2 separate regions of the Homo sapiens genome follow, and region 2 is linked to region 1. A link means that fine-mapping ties the variant in region 1 to the expression of a gene that starts in the linked region. Tissue or cell type: monocytes. Region 1 holds a variant in brackets; the other region holds the start of a gene. All regions are shown on one strand. Distances are from middle to middle.

Region 1 (8,270 bases):
CCTAAGGAATGGGAGGGGCCAACCCTTATCCATTCCTTAGCTACGAGAAACCTCTGAGCCCCCAGCCTGACGCATGGAACGTAAAGGGCCCGTGCAGGACATTGAGGCCCTTTGTTTTGAGTTAAACGAGGGTTGCCAGGTGGAGATTGTTACAGGGAGGGTGCTAGGTGAAAATGCTGTACAAACCACATGCTTTTGGAAGCAGTTGTGGTTCTCCTGCCCAGCCCACCACCACTGGACCACTGTGTATGTAAGCTTCCTGCTAATAAAACCCCATGTCTCATTTGAGGACTCTGGGTCTCTTCCTCATCCTCCTGAACCTAATGCCTTCCCTACCGAAGTTAATAGGAGCCCAGCACAACAGAGACTAGCCCCCGGATCATTTTGACAGGGTAAATGGGAGGTATATTAATTTGCTAGGGCTGCCATAACAAATACCACAAACTGGAGGACTTAAACAACAGAAATGCATCTTCTCCCAGTCCTGGAGGCCAGAAGCCCAACATCAAGGTGTCCAAAGAGTTGGTTCCTGCTGGAGGTTCTGAGGCAGAGCCCGTTCCAGGCCTCTCTCCTAGCTCCTGGAGGCGCTGACAATCCCGATCCTCCGTGTTCTTTCCCTTCCAGTTATTTCATTCCAGTCTCTGCCTCTCCTTCCTTCTCTGTGTCTTCTCATGGTAACACCAGTCCTTGAACTTAGGACCCCCCCTAATCCAGGATGACCTCATCCTAGCTATATCCACAAAGACTCTTATTTCCAAATAAAGTCACATGCTGAGCTTCCGAGTAGACATGAATTGGGGTGGGGAGGGAGGCATTATTCAACCCGGTATAGGTGGTGAACCAGAAGAAAAATTGAGTATGGATACCAGAAAAAAGAAAGTATGGATGCTTGGCAGGCAAAATATAAAGCCAACAGATGTCCACAATACCACATAAGTCACCCATCATCAAACTGTCAAAATCGAAGAGATCTTAAGCAAATCTGTTGTCCCGCTACCTAGTAACAACTGTGTCTAGTTAACTCCACAAGGAAAATCCCACAGGGGACGCAGTTCCACAGCAACCAGGAATCTCTCTTCGATGGGAGTGTTTTTTAGAAGCTGAGCTAAATTTGTAACTGGAATTCTCTTCAAGTTAACTTACCGCCTGCCCCCTGTGCTGACTTCACATATGTCCAAAATACTGAGAGCTCTAGCCCTCCAGGGAATTCGACTTCCGGCCCACAGAGTGTAGCCACATCTAAAAATGTCAGGATGCTTCGTGAAGGCAAAGTCAACTATTTCTGCATCTCCATCCTCAGGAAACCTATCCTCCTACTTGGCTCAATGGGCCTGTCTTCTCAGAATTATCATCACTAAGACAGTTAGAGATTTTACTTTTTTTTTTTCTCACTTGTAGAAGAAAATTCAAATTTCAGTTTCTTGTGGGGAAAAAAATGTAGAAGAATATAAGCCAAACTCTTACCAGCGGTTATCTCTGGAAGGTGAAAAAAAGAGAGTTCCAATGGAGTATAAGTTATGTTTGAAATAAGAAAAATACATACAGACACTTTTAAATTAAAAATAGCTGCTATTAGTTCTGTTAAACCCATTAACGGACTTTATGCTGTAGTGCTAACAGCCATTGACATGATACACAAGTAGCAAAATTTCTCCCCTAACAATGACAAAAACAAAATCTAAGCACAACAAAAGCAGTGAAAACAGAAAAGTCCATGTGAAAAAAATCCAAGGCAAACGACATTTATCATTTCAATTTCCTTAAAGGAGCAATGATTTTCCATTTGATGTAGTGATAATTCCTGGGGACCTGAGACCTTGGACAAGGGTTAAGAGTCCAAGGGGTGAGTCACACTTCCCAGCTGTGTGACCCTAGGCAAGTCACTTTGCCCCTATGGGCTCAGCTTCCTCATTTTCTAAAAATATCCCCACGAACTCATTTATATAGTCATTGTAACAATCAAATTGATCCACCTATGGGAAGGAGCTTTGAAAACATGATAAACATTATATGGGATTATTAAAAAAATTCTTAATTATTTAAGCATATGTGGCATCCTTCCAGACCCCAATAAAGTACATAAACAAAGGTAGTCCTTTCCCTCAAAATGATGGCTTTTGTTTAACCTCAGTGCCAAAGGCTAAAATCTTCATACTCCTCAGTCTGAGAGCTGTAACCATGCAAGGTTTTACTCTTATTATTTATTTATTGTCTTCAAGCTCCATCCCCTCACTCCCTTTCCCCTCCCCAGATTCAAGCTCCATCCCCTCACTCCCTTTCCCCTCCCCCTGCCTCTGGGCAACCTTCATTCTCTTTAATAGAGTGCTTTTTGCACATATTCCTTAAAAGCTGTATATATTTGTATGGGTGTATCTCTAATCTATGTAAATGGCATAGATAATTCATTTTGCTTCCTAGAGTTCTCACTAACACTGCGTTGTTGAGATCCAGCGATGTCGCTGTTGGCTGGCTGATCTGTTTCCTGTAATTGATGCGTCAAACTTCATGTGCATCCACAGCACTTTGTCAGCCTCATCTCTTAGCTGAGAGAGAATTCCATACTTCTACAAATGACACAGCAAAGAACATCTTTGTTCGAGGATCCGGGTTGATGTAGCCTCTTTGGGTAGGCAATACTCAATTCGCATGCTCTCCAATCCAGTCTCCTCGTAGCAGTGAGGGGAGGCTCCTGGATCTCCCACCACACTTGGCACTATCCAGCTTTCTAATAAAGATATAGTCTAACAGATGTAAAGTGGTAGCTTGTGGCTGTTTAATTTTCATCTGATTACTAAGATATTAAGCACCTCATCATGTGTTTATTATTTGAGATGGGAGGTTTTTCTGCTAAAAATTGCCTCATTCTATCCTTTTCCCATTTTGTTAGAAGTTGCCATCTTTTTTTCCTGTGGATTTGAGGATTTTCCTGAGTAAAGACCTTCTCCCATTTCTGTCATCTATTATAAACTCTGTCCAGGGACTGGACCAGAAATCCTTAATATCAATGTAAGCAAATCCACCTCTTTTCTGCCTTATGGTTTGGCTCTTCCTATTAGCACCACCTAGTAAGCAAAACTCGCCTTGTGGCTTAAGCTCTCCTGTTGCCCTAAAGATGGAATGCAAGCACCTCACACTGATACACAGGGCCCTTTTAATCCCAACCTTGCCTGCCTCTTTTCTGTTACCAAAGTCCACTCTTCCATCCACAACTCTGCCTTGCATGTACTGTCGCTGTTCTCACTTTTTTTTTTTTTTTGAGATGGAGTCTCGCTCTGTTGTCCAGGCTGGAGTGCAGTGGCGCGATCTCGGCTCACTGCAAGCTCCGCCTCCCGGGTCCACGCCATTCTCCTGCCTCAGCCTTCCCAGTAGCTGGGACTACAGGCACCCGCCACCACGCCCGGCTAATTTTTTGTATTTTTAGTAGAGACGGGGTTTCACTGTGTTAGCCAGGATGGTCTTGATCTCCTGACCTCGTGATCTGCCTGCCTTGGCCTCCCAAAGTGCTGGGATTACAGGCGTGAGCCACCACACCCGGCCCTCTCACTTTTAAGATTCCCTTGTTTCTCTTCTTCAGCCTGTAAATGTGAAGATTCTTTCAAGTGTCACTTCGCTTGTGAGTATTTGGGGTGTCTTTTTTTTTTTTCTTAGAGTCTTGCTCTGTCACCCAGGCTGGAGTGTAGTGGCTCGATCTTGGCTCACTGCAACCTCCGCCTCCTGGGTTCAAGCGATTCTCCTGCCTCAGCCTCCCAAGTAACTGGGATTCCAGGTGCACACCACTATACCCGGCTAATTTTTGTATTTTTAGTAGAGACGGGGTTTCACCATGTTGGCCAGGCTGGCCTTGAACTCCTGACCTCAGGTGATCCACCAGCCTTGGCCTCCCAAAGTGCTGGGATTACAGGCATGAGCCACCGTGCCCGGCTTGGGGTGTCTTTTCAACTCAGTACAGCATTGATATTTGCACATTTAACCAATGTGGTTTCTACTTTGGGAAATAAATCCTCATGGCCCAGAACATGTTACTGTTATTATATCACTAAGTAGTGCCTAGTTAGAAGAAGAGATACTCACCTGTTCATGTTACAGGTGCAGAAGCTAAGCCTTCATCAATGCCAGTGCCAGACACACATTAAAGGCGGCAAAACATTTTGTTCAGTCTACTGCCTTAGAGGAAAGAGACTCCAATATAACTGAGCTCAAATCCAGCTAGGACAAAGGTATGGAGGTTTCTAAAGGGAGAACAGAGAGGGAACTAAAAGGGATTATGGGGAAGTGAAAGGAGGGAATAAAAAAAAAACAGACTAGAGGGGCTATGGGGAAATGGAAAATTACATAAAGGGGGATGGGTGGAAAATTACTAAAAATTATTTGGCAAGACAACAGTATCTGTTGGGCAATAGAGATTCTGCAGCTTGACAGCATTG[C/T]AATTTTTTGAGCCCAAACGCAGCACCAGGCTGGGGTCAGTAGCCCTCAGAATCACGGCGAGTGCAGGTGGAAGCCAGGATAAAGTTAAGACAAGCCTCCCAGTGTGGCGTTCAGGCAACTGCTTTGTGCCACGTGGGACATGCTTAGGTAACCTGCATGTGGCTGAACGATCGACCGGTGTCAAAGCCTAGGTTTAAACACAAGTCGGCCTGACCACAATGTCTGAAGTCAACCCCCGTGTTACTTAGGTCGGCATTTGTAATGTTGCTGAGGTGTGGCGTGAGCCCCATGGAAGGCTTGTGAGCGGGAGGGAGTCATTTCACTAGTGAGGCTGCCCCACCGCCCTCAGCTTCATGGTTACCTCTGGTCCTGAGGTAACAGGAAGTCTTGTGAAGAAGAGCACTTTGTAGAAATTTGCCAGTTGAGACTCCAAAAAAACAGCCTGGTGAAATAGGTGAGTGATTACTTTGAGATGGAAGAATATGCAAGAACTACTTGCTTCTTGATGGGAATGTAATTTAGGAAAAAGGCAAAACATTCATTTCACAAACATGGAAACTTTCGTAAGTTTCTGGAAGTTTCTAGAAGTCCTCTCAACCTTCACTGAGATACAGTGAACTCTTTGAATGGGTTTTGGCAAAAAAGAAAGAAAAGCAAGTGTCATTGTTTCCATATGAACATCAGCCGTGAGACACTCCATTGTAAGGCACACTTTCAGCAAAAAGAGACATTAGCAACACTCCTCTCTGTGGCAGAGAACAACAGGTTGTAAAACTTAAGTCCCCCTCAGAGTCTAATTTAGATAATTATAGTTTGCCTCCTAGGACTCTCCCTGAGGATCCAGCTGGCTTTGGCTGTCATCATTACTGCTATTCTTCTAAATTACTGGGCAGGGCAGGATGACGAGGCTGCGCCTGACGCAGGGAGAGCCTAGGAGGAAAGGTGTTCCTCCATCAGCGGCTCGTCCCTGTCTGACAAAAACCATTATTTTGTACAGAGCACAACGCACCCACACTCGGTGTAACAGAAGCAGAAAAATCAGCAAGGGTTTTATGTGGTTTTTCCTGTCGCTCGGCCTTTCCAAAATGAGACAGACCTCCTGCACTCTCCTGGAACCTTACATGCTCCTTCGCAATAGACCTGATTCAGGAACACCAGCTGAGCTGACTCGGAAGCCACATCACATAGAAGCTAAGAACACCTTGTCAAAGCCCGACTGTGTGGGTTCCTATCCTGGTTCTGCCACTCTGGGGTGTGTGATGTGGACCAAACTCTTCTCCCTTCGTGTGCCAGAGAGTCCTCGTCTGTGACATGGGGATAATAGCAATGCCTTCCTCACGGGAGTCACGAGGAGCAACTGAATTCACCGCACACAGAGGAGAGCCTGGCCCCTTGCAAACACGCTCCACAGCGTCTGCTCCTACCAGTCCCTCAGAATCAGGTCATGAGTCTCTCTGAGCCGGGCTGCGGCCAGCGGTGTGCAGTTATCACAAATGACGACAGCAGCAGGTACACGTATGCTGCTGTGAACACAGGAGATGTTATGAAGAGTAGCAAGTCCCTGGGATGTGGAGAAAAGACTGGGCTGCAGGATCCAGAAAAGGACGTGTCCCATGCCTGTAAGAGTCTCAGGCCACATGCCTCCCCCTTTTATGCCTCCATTTCCCCATCTGAAAAATGTTCCAATTGAAATACATCATTTCTTAACTCTCACACTTCCATCCTAAGACTTCCATCCACTGCCTGGGCCTGGCTGAGATGTCCTTGCAGTCAGCTTTATAGTCATCCCAACGTGTGCTGTTGGTATCTAGGTTGGAAATAAATTGCCTGGAATAAAGACTTGATTGTGAAACCTAGGAAGGAGCCACTGAGAGACCTCCCAGAGTGTTGCTGAGATTCGAGACAGGACGGGGATGAAGGGAGTGGATTCCTCAGGCTGTCTGACAACAGACAGAGAGAGGAAAAGCATGTGCCAGAATGCTTTTCATAAATCAAGAGCAGAAGGGCCATTCAGAGACCCCCTCGGGGACCTGACATCATCCTTGCCATAACCCCAGGTGGCTGCAAAATACCGAGTCTTTTGGTCTCTTAGAGATAGACAGGCTGAGGGGCCACCCAAGAGCATGCTTCTGACCTATTTGTCCTCAGCGCTGGAAGACTCAATGCTGTTGTCTCTGCTGGCCCCCATGACAACCAGATTAGACAATCAATCTAACCGTCAGTGAAATCTACTCATTATTGGATTCTGCCCAGCCTTCCTTGGATGGGAGTTGCAGCCTGATAGCAAAAAGAAATGAACTAGACCTGAGAAGGACAGGGCCAAGGCCAAGATGAACCCAGGGAGCCGGCGTCCAAGTTGGAAGAGGAAGGTGTGCGTACTTTGAGTTCAAGGGCGGGCGTCCAAGGCTGCCCAGATTCCGCACGCATCTGCACCCTGCCTTTCAGTTAACACAGCGGAGAGAGTGAGGCAAACACCTCCAGACAGTACCCTCCAGCATAGAGAGGAGCCTCCTTACAATGGGAATGGGCAGCTCCGAGCCCCTGCTGTCCAGGGCAGGAGCTCTGGGTACAGAAGCCATCAAGACCTGCACAACCACAGAGAGAAGCCACCAGATCCCCACCGCCACCCCGCAGGCAGTGTGGGGGCTGCGCCTAGTGCTGCCTCAGCCGGATCTCCTCTGCCCCACTCGGCGCAAGAAGAGAACCCACAGGTGTGGGAGGAGAGGGCCGCAGACCCACCCCTCCCAACACCAGACTCAGCTCAGTGCCCTCTGGCACCTAGAAAAGTGCCCAGCATACACTGGCCATGCAGCAAATAGTGGCAAGGAAGGGCAGATTCCAACATCCTGGTCCTCTGCGTGGTCTTGGACAACAGGCTTTACCTCTCTGAGTCTCAGTCCCCGCTCTAAAAACTGTCATGATGATGATAATATCTGCCCGAGTGTAAGAAGAGACGGAATGGCAAATGCATGGAAAACCACTCAGGCGACTGGAAACACTCCACAAAGCAAAGGATTAAAGATTAGAAAACTGTCTCCTCCACATGCGAACCTGAGGACCTTAAGTTAAGGGAAATAAGCCAAGCACAGAAACACAAACACCGCGTGATCTCACTTACATGTGGAATCTAAAAAGCTGAAGGCATGAAAGTACAGCGCAGGATGGTGGTTACGAGGGGCTGCCGGGAGGGAGAGGTTTGGAGAGATGTTGGTTAAAGGGTACAAAATTTCTATTAGGAATAATAAAAATAAAATTTCTATTAGGAATAATAAAAATAAAATTTCTATTAGGAATAATAAAAATAAAATTTCTATTAGGAGCAAAAAGTTCAACAGTTCTATTGCACAACATGGTGACTATATTAATAACAACGTATTTTACTCCTGAAAATTGCTAAGAGAGTAGATATTAAGTCTCACCATAAAAATATGATGTGCATGTGAGGTAATGCCTATCTTAAGGGGCTCAGTGGAGCCACTCCACAATGTATACATATTTTAAAGCAACATGTATGCAATAAACATATACAATTTTTTGTCAACTAAAACATTTTTTAAAAAAGAAAATTATCTCCTCATTCCTCTCAAATATGCCCAGATAATATTCTGTGGCCAAACAAGTAAAATTCTGTTTCCTCACTTTCATCTCTTAAACTGACCACAATCTGGGCTCATCATCATCATTATTATTATTATTATTTTTGGAGACAGAATCTCACTCTGTTGCCCAGGCTGGAGTGCAGTGGCGCTATCTCGGTTCACTGCAACCTCTGCCTCTCAGGTTCAAGCAATTCTCGTGCCTCAGCCTCCTGAGTAGCTGGGATTACAAGTGCCCACAACTACACC
Region 2 (8,270 bases), 160 kb after region 1:
CATTCACCTCCTCATTGCGTCTCACCTGAACCACACACCCAAACCTAACTTTTCCCAATCAGGGCTCTCCTAGAGTGGCTGTCTTGGCTTATGGCCACTCTTGACAGACCTCAAGACCAAATTAGAAAGAACCCATAACCATAAGAATCACAACACCCTGTCCTCCCTCATCTCTCCAGTGCACACATTCCAACCAGACTCAACACTCCCTATTGAATTTGCCCAACTTTTGCCACCTCTGTGCCCCTATGCAAGTGACTCCCCTGCCTAGGATGCTCTCCCTCCTTCCCTATCAAGCACGCACTACAATCAGATCCATCAGATGGGCCATCAGTGATCATCTCAAGTGACACCTCGTCCATAAAGACTTTCCTAGTCCTTCCAACTAGAAATAATCCCATCCGTCTCCTAAATCCCATCACATTAGATTTCGTTTGTCTCTTCTTTGCTTCTACCTTGCAGCGTCAACTCCAGAGTGTCTCTGGGACCCTCTGAGCTGCAGTCTGACTGGAAGAAAAGGCCAGAGACTGGCCTTAGGTAGCATTTGCACAAGTGCTGTGTTTTATTAGAATTCTACGCGGAGGGTTGCTGATGAGGACAGATAATGGAGCTGCTATGCAATGCCCCCTCAACCCTAGCCACCGAGGCCTATTTACTCCTTCTTTCTCCCACTAGACTGCAAGCGTCTAAGGACAGGGGCTGTGTGCCTCAGGTCAGCACCCTCGGCAGCGTCGAGCCCAGTGCGTGACATGGAGGAAGTGCTTGCCACAAATGCCTCTGGGAGGCATCCCTGCTGGAAGGAAACACAGCTTCTTCTGGTCTGTGCAGAACAAGTAAGTCCTAGCACCTACTCCCGGTTCTTGGCTCACTAAAGCCAAGGGTGGGAGTCAGTCAGTCCTTCCTCAGTAGGTTCCGAGGACAGTTGCTGACTTGCTCTTTCTTTAAGGTGCCTTTTACTTTTGAACCTGAATTTTTCTAGAAAAATGTAATAGGCAGGGCACCCAATCCAAAGGGATGGCCCCCAGTGGCAACCCTGAGTAAAGTAAGGCCAATTCACTGTCACATTGCTTGGTCAATTTCACTATGAATCCACGCTCCGAGGACGCACTCTTGCCCAGTAGGCACCACCCCTCACTGGCAACAGAGAGACAGCAAATTGCTCCGCACCCCAGTAGCACAGGCTTTCCCTGCGCCGGGTGTGGTGCATCCCAGGAGAGCTTTCTCACACCAGGTGGCATCCAGGTGGATCTGGCGACCGCCCAGCAAGCATGTATCCCCTCTCACAAAAGGGAAGAAAAGGAAGAGTGGCCAAGAAGGGGTGGAAACCCCAGTTTTCCTCTATAAATGTGACGCCGGATTTTAACCTCTCCCTCGGCAAATCTACATATCAGACAAAAAAGAAACTAATATAGATATTAGTCTTGTACTGACTTAGACTTTCACTTACCCCGCCCCTTGTTTCTTAATGGCCTTTTTTCTTTTTTTTAAACTCTTGTACCTAGGTTAGCCTGTTTCCTGTTCATATTAAGGAATCCAGGCCCTTTGCAGTAAAGAAAGCCAAGGATACCCTGGAGCTTTATATTAGGAATGTTTCTAGATTGTTGGTTGAAAGCATGTCCATTTCTTAATTTGCACCCTAAACACACTTCACGGCTTCATTTAAATCTGAGCACTCTGTGTATTCCAACTGCCTATGCAGGGTTCTAACTTAACCAAGTACTTAACGAGTAGCATTAATATTCGTTGTCTTCTCCACGGGTGCCTGCACTCATCAAGGTAAATAGTTACCGGCTACCTCCACGGCCCTTGATTGAGCTGAGAATTGTCTGTCCTTATCTAGACAGTGGATTGTTTGTCCCCCACCATGGGAAAACCCTGCTGGTTACTTTCCAAAGGCCTCATTTTAAAAAGACACGTTTCCACTTACAGACCTTTTAAAAATGCCAGGCAATTTGGAAGAACAGTAAGAAATCTACTATCTGCGTGACAGTCATTCAGAGATTCTTGTAGTGTGCCAGGCACCATATTAAGTGCTAGGAATGCAATGATGACTCCAAGGAGTCCTGGTTCCTGCCCTCATGATGCTTATGGTACGGTGGGAGAGGCCAACATGTAGGGAAAGGTCACTCTAATGAGCGCCTAATTACCGAGTGAGCTCAGTGTTAGGAAGGAAAGGCACGGATGTGAGGACTCCCTAGAGGGTGGGGAAGATGTTGGAGCTGAGCTATGAAAGATGAAGAAATTGGTTATTCACTGAATGTCAGGGCACAGAATGTCAGGGCAGGAAGACCACACACACACACACACACACACACACACACACACACACACACACCCTACTATTCATAGATGAGGAAACTGAGGCCCAGCAGAGCTAGATGACTTGCCGAAGGTCAGAGCTAATTCTAGAAACCCATCCCCAATCCCTTCCTGCTAAACCACTTAATTTTATTTATATCCCAGCTATAGATTATACAAATACACTTGACAAATAAAACGGAGAATATTGAGTTAAAACCACATCTCTGAAGACCACACGCATAAATAACGATCGTGTTTTAATGCGGACGATACCTTTTCATTTTGCAAATCCAGAGTTCTCATCATATCAAAATTCAAGACAGTTTGTTCTGTAAGAAGGGGAAGGTCATAACCCTGTCTAGAATGTACTGGCAAATCTCTCTAACCGTGCAGTGCTAATTTGGGCCTGAGCTGTGTAACCAGACCGACTTCACGCTCCAGCTGGGGTTTCAGATCCACACATGGCGATTGGGTGGCTCTTTGCTGTTTCACAGCAAGGGTCCTTCCCTGGGCTCCCGGAGCCTCTGGGGATTTACTGCTCCCGACGTGGCCGTGTTCAAGCCACTGTGTGCATGCGCTTAATGTTGAAAACATTCTTTTGAAAAGCCCAGGAGATTCCACTCGCAATCTGTGCGTGTGCATGTAAAAGCGCAGAGACTGGAAAGAACCGCGGCAGAGCACACCCTGACCGAAGGTTACCGCGGGGGAGCCGCGGCCGTGGGAGAGCCGCGGCCGTGGGAGGGAGTGCGATACGGTCTTTTCACTCTAGACACTCCTGAGTTATGTACAATTCTACGCAAGAATGTATGCGTGTGTTAGCATGTAATACATATGTATTAGTTTTTTCAGGAAGATTCTTAAACAACAACAAAATCTCTATAGAACAAAGGTGCGTCTCCGCAGAGCGCAACAGCATTTGTCTTGGATGTAACCGCCTTCTCCAGAAATCTCAGAGGAACTCCCCTCGACCACCGCCTAACTGAAGGACACCGTGCGCTCCACCGCAACCCTGCGGGCGATTCGGAAAGTTGGAGGCGCCCCGGGGAGTCGCCGCACTTGCCGCCCGCGCCCCCTAACCTGAGCATTCAAGGAGTCTTGACTTGGCCGCTGGCGCACTCCGCACCCACCCAGCCGGTGCTGATGCGGGAGGGTGGGGCCGCGGCGGGGCGGGGCAACGCGAGCCCGCACCCCGCTCCTCCCCGCCCCTCCCTGCCGGCCCCGCCCGCGCGCGCCCCCCGCCCGCGGCCCGGGCGCCCGGCCCGCCCCCTCCCCTCGGCGCGCAAACGAACCTCGCGACGCCGCGCTCGGCGGCGGGCGGGGGCCGGGCGAGGGAGGGGGCTGGTCCCGGCCGCCCCACTCTGCAGTTGTCTCCCGAGCGCTGGCTGCGCCGCCCGAGCCGCTGGGCCGGGGAAGCACTGGCCGTTCGCTCCCGGGCCGGCTCCGCCAGGCGCTCGCAGGCATGCAGCCCGGGAGCAGGAGGCGCTCCCCGGGCCGCTGCTGAGCCGGCCGGGGCGGCGGGGACCAGCGCCAGCGGAGCCCCTCCCACCTTGCCCCGGGGCAGACGAGCGGCGCCCCGACACCCCCTCTTCTCCCGCAGCCCCGCCAGCGCCACCCCCCGCGGGCCGCAGGGGCTCATGCAGCCGCCAAGGTAAGCGCGGGTCGGGAGCCGGGCAGACCCGGCTCTGACATCTCCGAGGCGCCGCCGACACATGCCGGGGCCACGGCGCTGCTTTGGTCTTCCTTAGCCCCGCGTCTCATCTTGCTCCCATCTTGCCCACATTTGGAGCTTTGCTGCGCCTCTATCGCTTTAGCTGTTGGCAGCAGGAAAGTTTTTGTGGTTTGGTGTTTGTTCTTTTTTCCTAAAATACTCTCCCCCGGGCAGCCGCCAGCGCGCGTGGTTGGGCAGACCCGGCACACGTCCCTTACACCGTGTGCGGGCTGGGAGCTCCTTCCCTCAGCCCGGCTCGCGGAGCCCCGGACGGAGCCGGCCACCCGACTGTCCCGCCGTGAACCCCCATTGGCCCGCGCCGCCCGGGCCCCCGCCTCCCGCTCGACGCCCGGCTGCGGAGCTGCCTGGCCATCTCCTGCCCTCGGGGATGTCGGCGCAGTGCACCGCGTGGGCTCGCGTCCCGGCGGCCCTTTGCCTCGGCGCGCCGGCGTACGGGAAGGTGCGGACCTTGGATTGAGGGCCGAGGATGCCCATTGCCAAGCCGCCCCGGCTTTCCTAAGTGGACGGGAGGGCACGGCGACGATTCAGCGCCGGCTCGCGCCGCAGCTCAACCCAGGGTACAAGCCCGGGCATGGGGGACAGGTGTATTCAATGGGAGGGCGGGTGTGGGGGACGCTCGGGTGCAATTCGGGATTGCGTCTTATTAATGTAATTGTATTAGACTTGCTCGGAGGTAGAATCAGTTCTCCCAAATTGAGATTTCTAATGGGAGCCTGTGAGCTGCTATTATGTGGTGTGGTTTTGGGAGGTGTTGGGTTGTATTTATTTTATAAATTGGGTGTCTCGCGGGCGGAGTAGGGGAAGTAGCGCCATCTAGCGGAAGTGGTGAGCTGTGCATTCCTCTTAGGCTGCGAAGTTGTTGGGTGTTCTCAAAGTAGTCTCCCGCACAAGGTGGAGAGGCGGGAACCAGCCCTCGCCTCCAGGAAGGAGGCTACAGAAGCTCTCTGAGTATCGACGGTACCAGGGAGAACCCCGACCTCCCATGCTCAGCACATTGAGCTCAGGGGACGAAATTGCGGGTCGTGTTGAGTGGCATGCTGTCACCTAAAGGAGCTCCATCACCTTCTCTGTTTGGTTTTAGACTCTTCCAGCAAAAACGTAATATAAAATGTTAACTGCTGTAAGAAGATGCCCCTTCCGCAGGTATCTGGTGCAGAGATCTTGAAAACCAATGCACAAACCTCTGTCTTCTCCTGTGCATCACAAACGGGTGATTTCTTGGGTGGATTTTGAGCCATGACCCCTAGAAAAGAGAGTAACTGTGCTCCGAAGGGCAACAGGAGGAGAACTGGGAGAGGGCCTCCTGCCCATTTGTGCAGGAACAGAATAGTGTACCCAAACTGGGTTTTGTGGTTTTTTTTTTTTTTTTTTTTGCACATACAAAGAAGGGGTTTCTTGCTGTTACCACAGCAAGTGACAAGCAAGCCCCCTTTACAGGGACATGATCTCCAATTAACAACTGGGGCAGACGTGGCTGGATGGCAAGTTCTGCAGACAAAGGCTCTGGGTGGGGCACCCACACATCCAGGCGGGCTCCACGTTCTCTGTGGCTGGTTTTTGCTGCCACCTTCCAGGCCAGATAATATATTAGCAGTGAGCTGGGCTCACCCGGTTCTGAAGGGCACCCTGGCCCCTTGTAGAGCAGTGTAGTGGTCTACTGTAGTACCCCCTTGAGACTCTCTGGGCTGTGCTGGTAGTGAAAGAGGTCTTAGCCTCCTTTTTTCAAGTACCCTGCTTCCATTATTTCCCTCCCAGGTGTCAGACAGTTGCTTACATTCTCCAATAGACATATGAAATGGTGGGTGGCTGGTCTGCCCCGTCATGCTGTCTCAAACTGTGTCTCCATTGGTAGGTATTTATGTCATCATGAGACTTGTGACAGACGAGGTCTTAGAATAGCTTGGCATCTCATTCAAGGAGGGCACCTTTGACTTTTGCTAAGAAACCTCTGCCTGCTTTCTCTTTTTACAAACCTCCTCCAAGGAATAACTTGCTGCTTCCCAGTGTATGTAATAATAGACAATAAAGGCACAAGAATCTCCTTTTTAATACAATCCCTTGCTCTTCAGCAGCCCTGTGAGAAGCCAAGCCCAAGAATTCTTAGACGAGCAGTTGCAAAATGAAATAAATAGGGACTGAGCATCCCTGACACTGGGACAGGGAGTTTTTCAGCCATTCTTCCAGGGATGCTTGCTGCTCCCAGGAAGCAGGCAGGAATGGGTGCTGGTATTTTCAGTTTCTCAGAAGAAACTGATGGCCAGAAAGCAGAAGGGATATGGCCAGTGTTCTGTGAGTCTAAAGTGCGTTTTTCCCCCTACAACCTTGCTACCAAATGAATTAAGTTCTAGCGCTTGTTTTTACCAAGTATGGTTGCAAAATTTGTTCCTGCCTTGAAGCATGCAGTATAGACATGAAAGAAGGCACGGTCACCGATCCATCAAGAAGCCTGCCATCCAGGGAAAGAGGCAGGAAGTATCCAAGTGCAATTGAGCAAAAACATAGAAGGATTATCTGAAAGCAGCGCAGGCAAATTGGAATCTGTTAGTTCTGTGAAACGAAATGACACTACTCCTTACAGGTAATTATTCTAGAACTTGACTTATAACATCCCAAAGGTAAGTTTAGTTAACTTTTAAGTGTCTGTGGTGTTCCTGTGGCTCTTTTAGGGAATGGCTTTGCTTCCATTATGTAGCCATTCCACAAACTTAACTGAACATAAATTTAACCTGAAGAAGGGAAGCTCCAGGTTTCCCCACCTGTTTGGTATCCAGCCTATCCAAAAGACAGGCTCCTCTTTTTCTTATTTTGAGCAAATGACTGCTCAGTTTCAGCCTCTCTTCTCTTAGCAACAGAGCTATAAAGGAGCAATGAATAGGGCAGTGGAAAAAATTAAGGATTGCCTTACCCAAGTATGCATACAAGGCCAGGCAGAAGTCAGTTTCCTTGGTGACAGATGAACAAATGAACTCTATTGAAAGGATACCCAGTTTCTTAGCCAGGTCCGTCCTGTGAGTAGAAGTGCTGTATCATGTTAGAACCCAGGGGTCAGGAGGCAAGAATGCCTAGTGAGGTGTGAAACTTTACAATTCTTAGGGCAGGAAGAAGAAGGAATTTTAAAAGTAGGGCAGAAATTGACAAAATAAATGCAAATGTCTTTTATAACCTCATATAAAAAGTTTTAAGTCACTGGTAACTGACTAACATAAAAATGTACTATGTACCTACCCAACTTACGAAATGATTATATCCAGATTACCACAGTAAATAATGGAAGTGTAGCAAACAGTTTATGCAGAGAGTGACTACAGAATTGCTGGTTGGATTTACTTTTCTCATTTTTCAGTTGCTTGTTTAAAGCAGTGCTATGAGGTGAAGAACTTTCAGAAAGCAAAATACTGGATTTCCCAGAGCCTGAAAATTAGGCAGAAGGTTTAAAGACTCTGTCAACTATCTGGTCAAAGGAGGCCAATTCCCATAGGTTCTGTGTCCTCTGTGGGCCAAAACAGAGATCAGCGGGTATGAGTAAAAACGCCCCAAAACTCATTGACTTCTGTCTTGGCAGGACATTTTAGTAGTTACCGTCTGTTGTGGCTTCTCCTTATATTTCATTTTTTCATCTTCATGGACTCTTAAGATCAGGGTCTTTGGAGCAGCTCACCCTGGCTGACAGGAACAGTTTGCTCTGTTTCCTGGTAATATTCCATTCTTCTGTCCTTGTGAAACAGAGATATTCTGCCTAATTTCTCAGTAAGAGTTTTGATAACATTATTTTATTCTTAGTGTACATTTCTTCTTGAAGATGGATGCAACCCATTTTTATCCTTTGTAGGTATTTTGAAGAATTTTCTCCTTGATGTCTTTAAACAAGATTAGGTGGAAGCATGCAACGTACATATACCTACCCCTGAAGGCCCCTACACATCCCTCACATTACTAGTATTGTCAGCCACAGTGCATACTCTTCTTTAGGATTCACTCCCCTATTAGACTTTTATACTTTTCTCAACTGATCTGCACCATGATGTGTCTCTCCTCTCCAGATTGTCTATTCAAAAACCCTGAGATAGCCAGGCACGGTGGTTCACTCCTGTAATCCCAGCACTTTGGGAGGCCAAGGCGGGCAGATCACTTGAGGTCAGGGGTTCGAGACCAGCATGGTCAACATGGTGAAACGCCGTCTCTACTAGAAGTGTAAAAACTGGCCGGGTGTGGCGGCACATGACTGTAGTCCCAGCTACTC

Direction of the effects. Alleles are on the strand shown, and positions count from the first base shown. SD is a standard deviation of normalised expression in the study named.
For the expression in monocytes of the gene that starts at base 3,657 in region 2, T is the low allele of the variant in region 1 and C is the other (small effect, 0.39 SD a copy in Fairfax 2014).

The links. PIP is the estimated chance that this variant, and not a neighbour inherited with it, causes the effect.
Region 2: it holds the start of RGMA, and the variant in region 1 is fine-mapped to the expression of RGMA in monocytes (TOPMed, PIP 0.99).

The regions. Positions count from the first base shown.
Region 1 is chr15:93,244,013-93,252,282 of GRCh38, reverse strand. All of the region lies in intron 4 of LOC105370982 (a long non-coding RNA gene), which reads right to left. Among named protein-coding and RNA genes, the nearest start is that of RGMA, 160 kb to the right of the region's middle. RefSeq lists enhancers at 6,502-7,009, 7,010-7,519. The variant C/T (reference allele first, on the strand shown) is at 4,425.
Region 2 is chr15:93,084,598-93,092,867 of GRCh38, reverse strand. RGMA (repulsive guidance molecule BMP co-receptor a) reads left to right here and starts at 3,657. Exons shown (of 4, transcript NM_020211.3): 1 at 3,657-3,949. The coding sequence starts at 3,936. It overlaps LOC101927025 (a long non-coding RNA gene), which reads right to left and starts at 3,654. Exons shown (of 5, transcript XR_007064769.1): 1 at 3,591-3,654.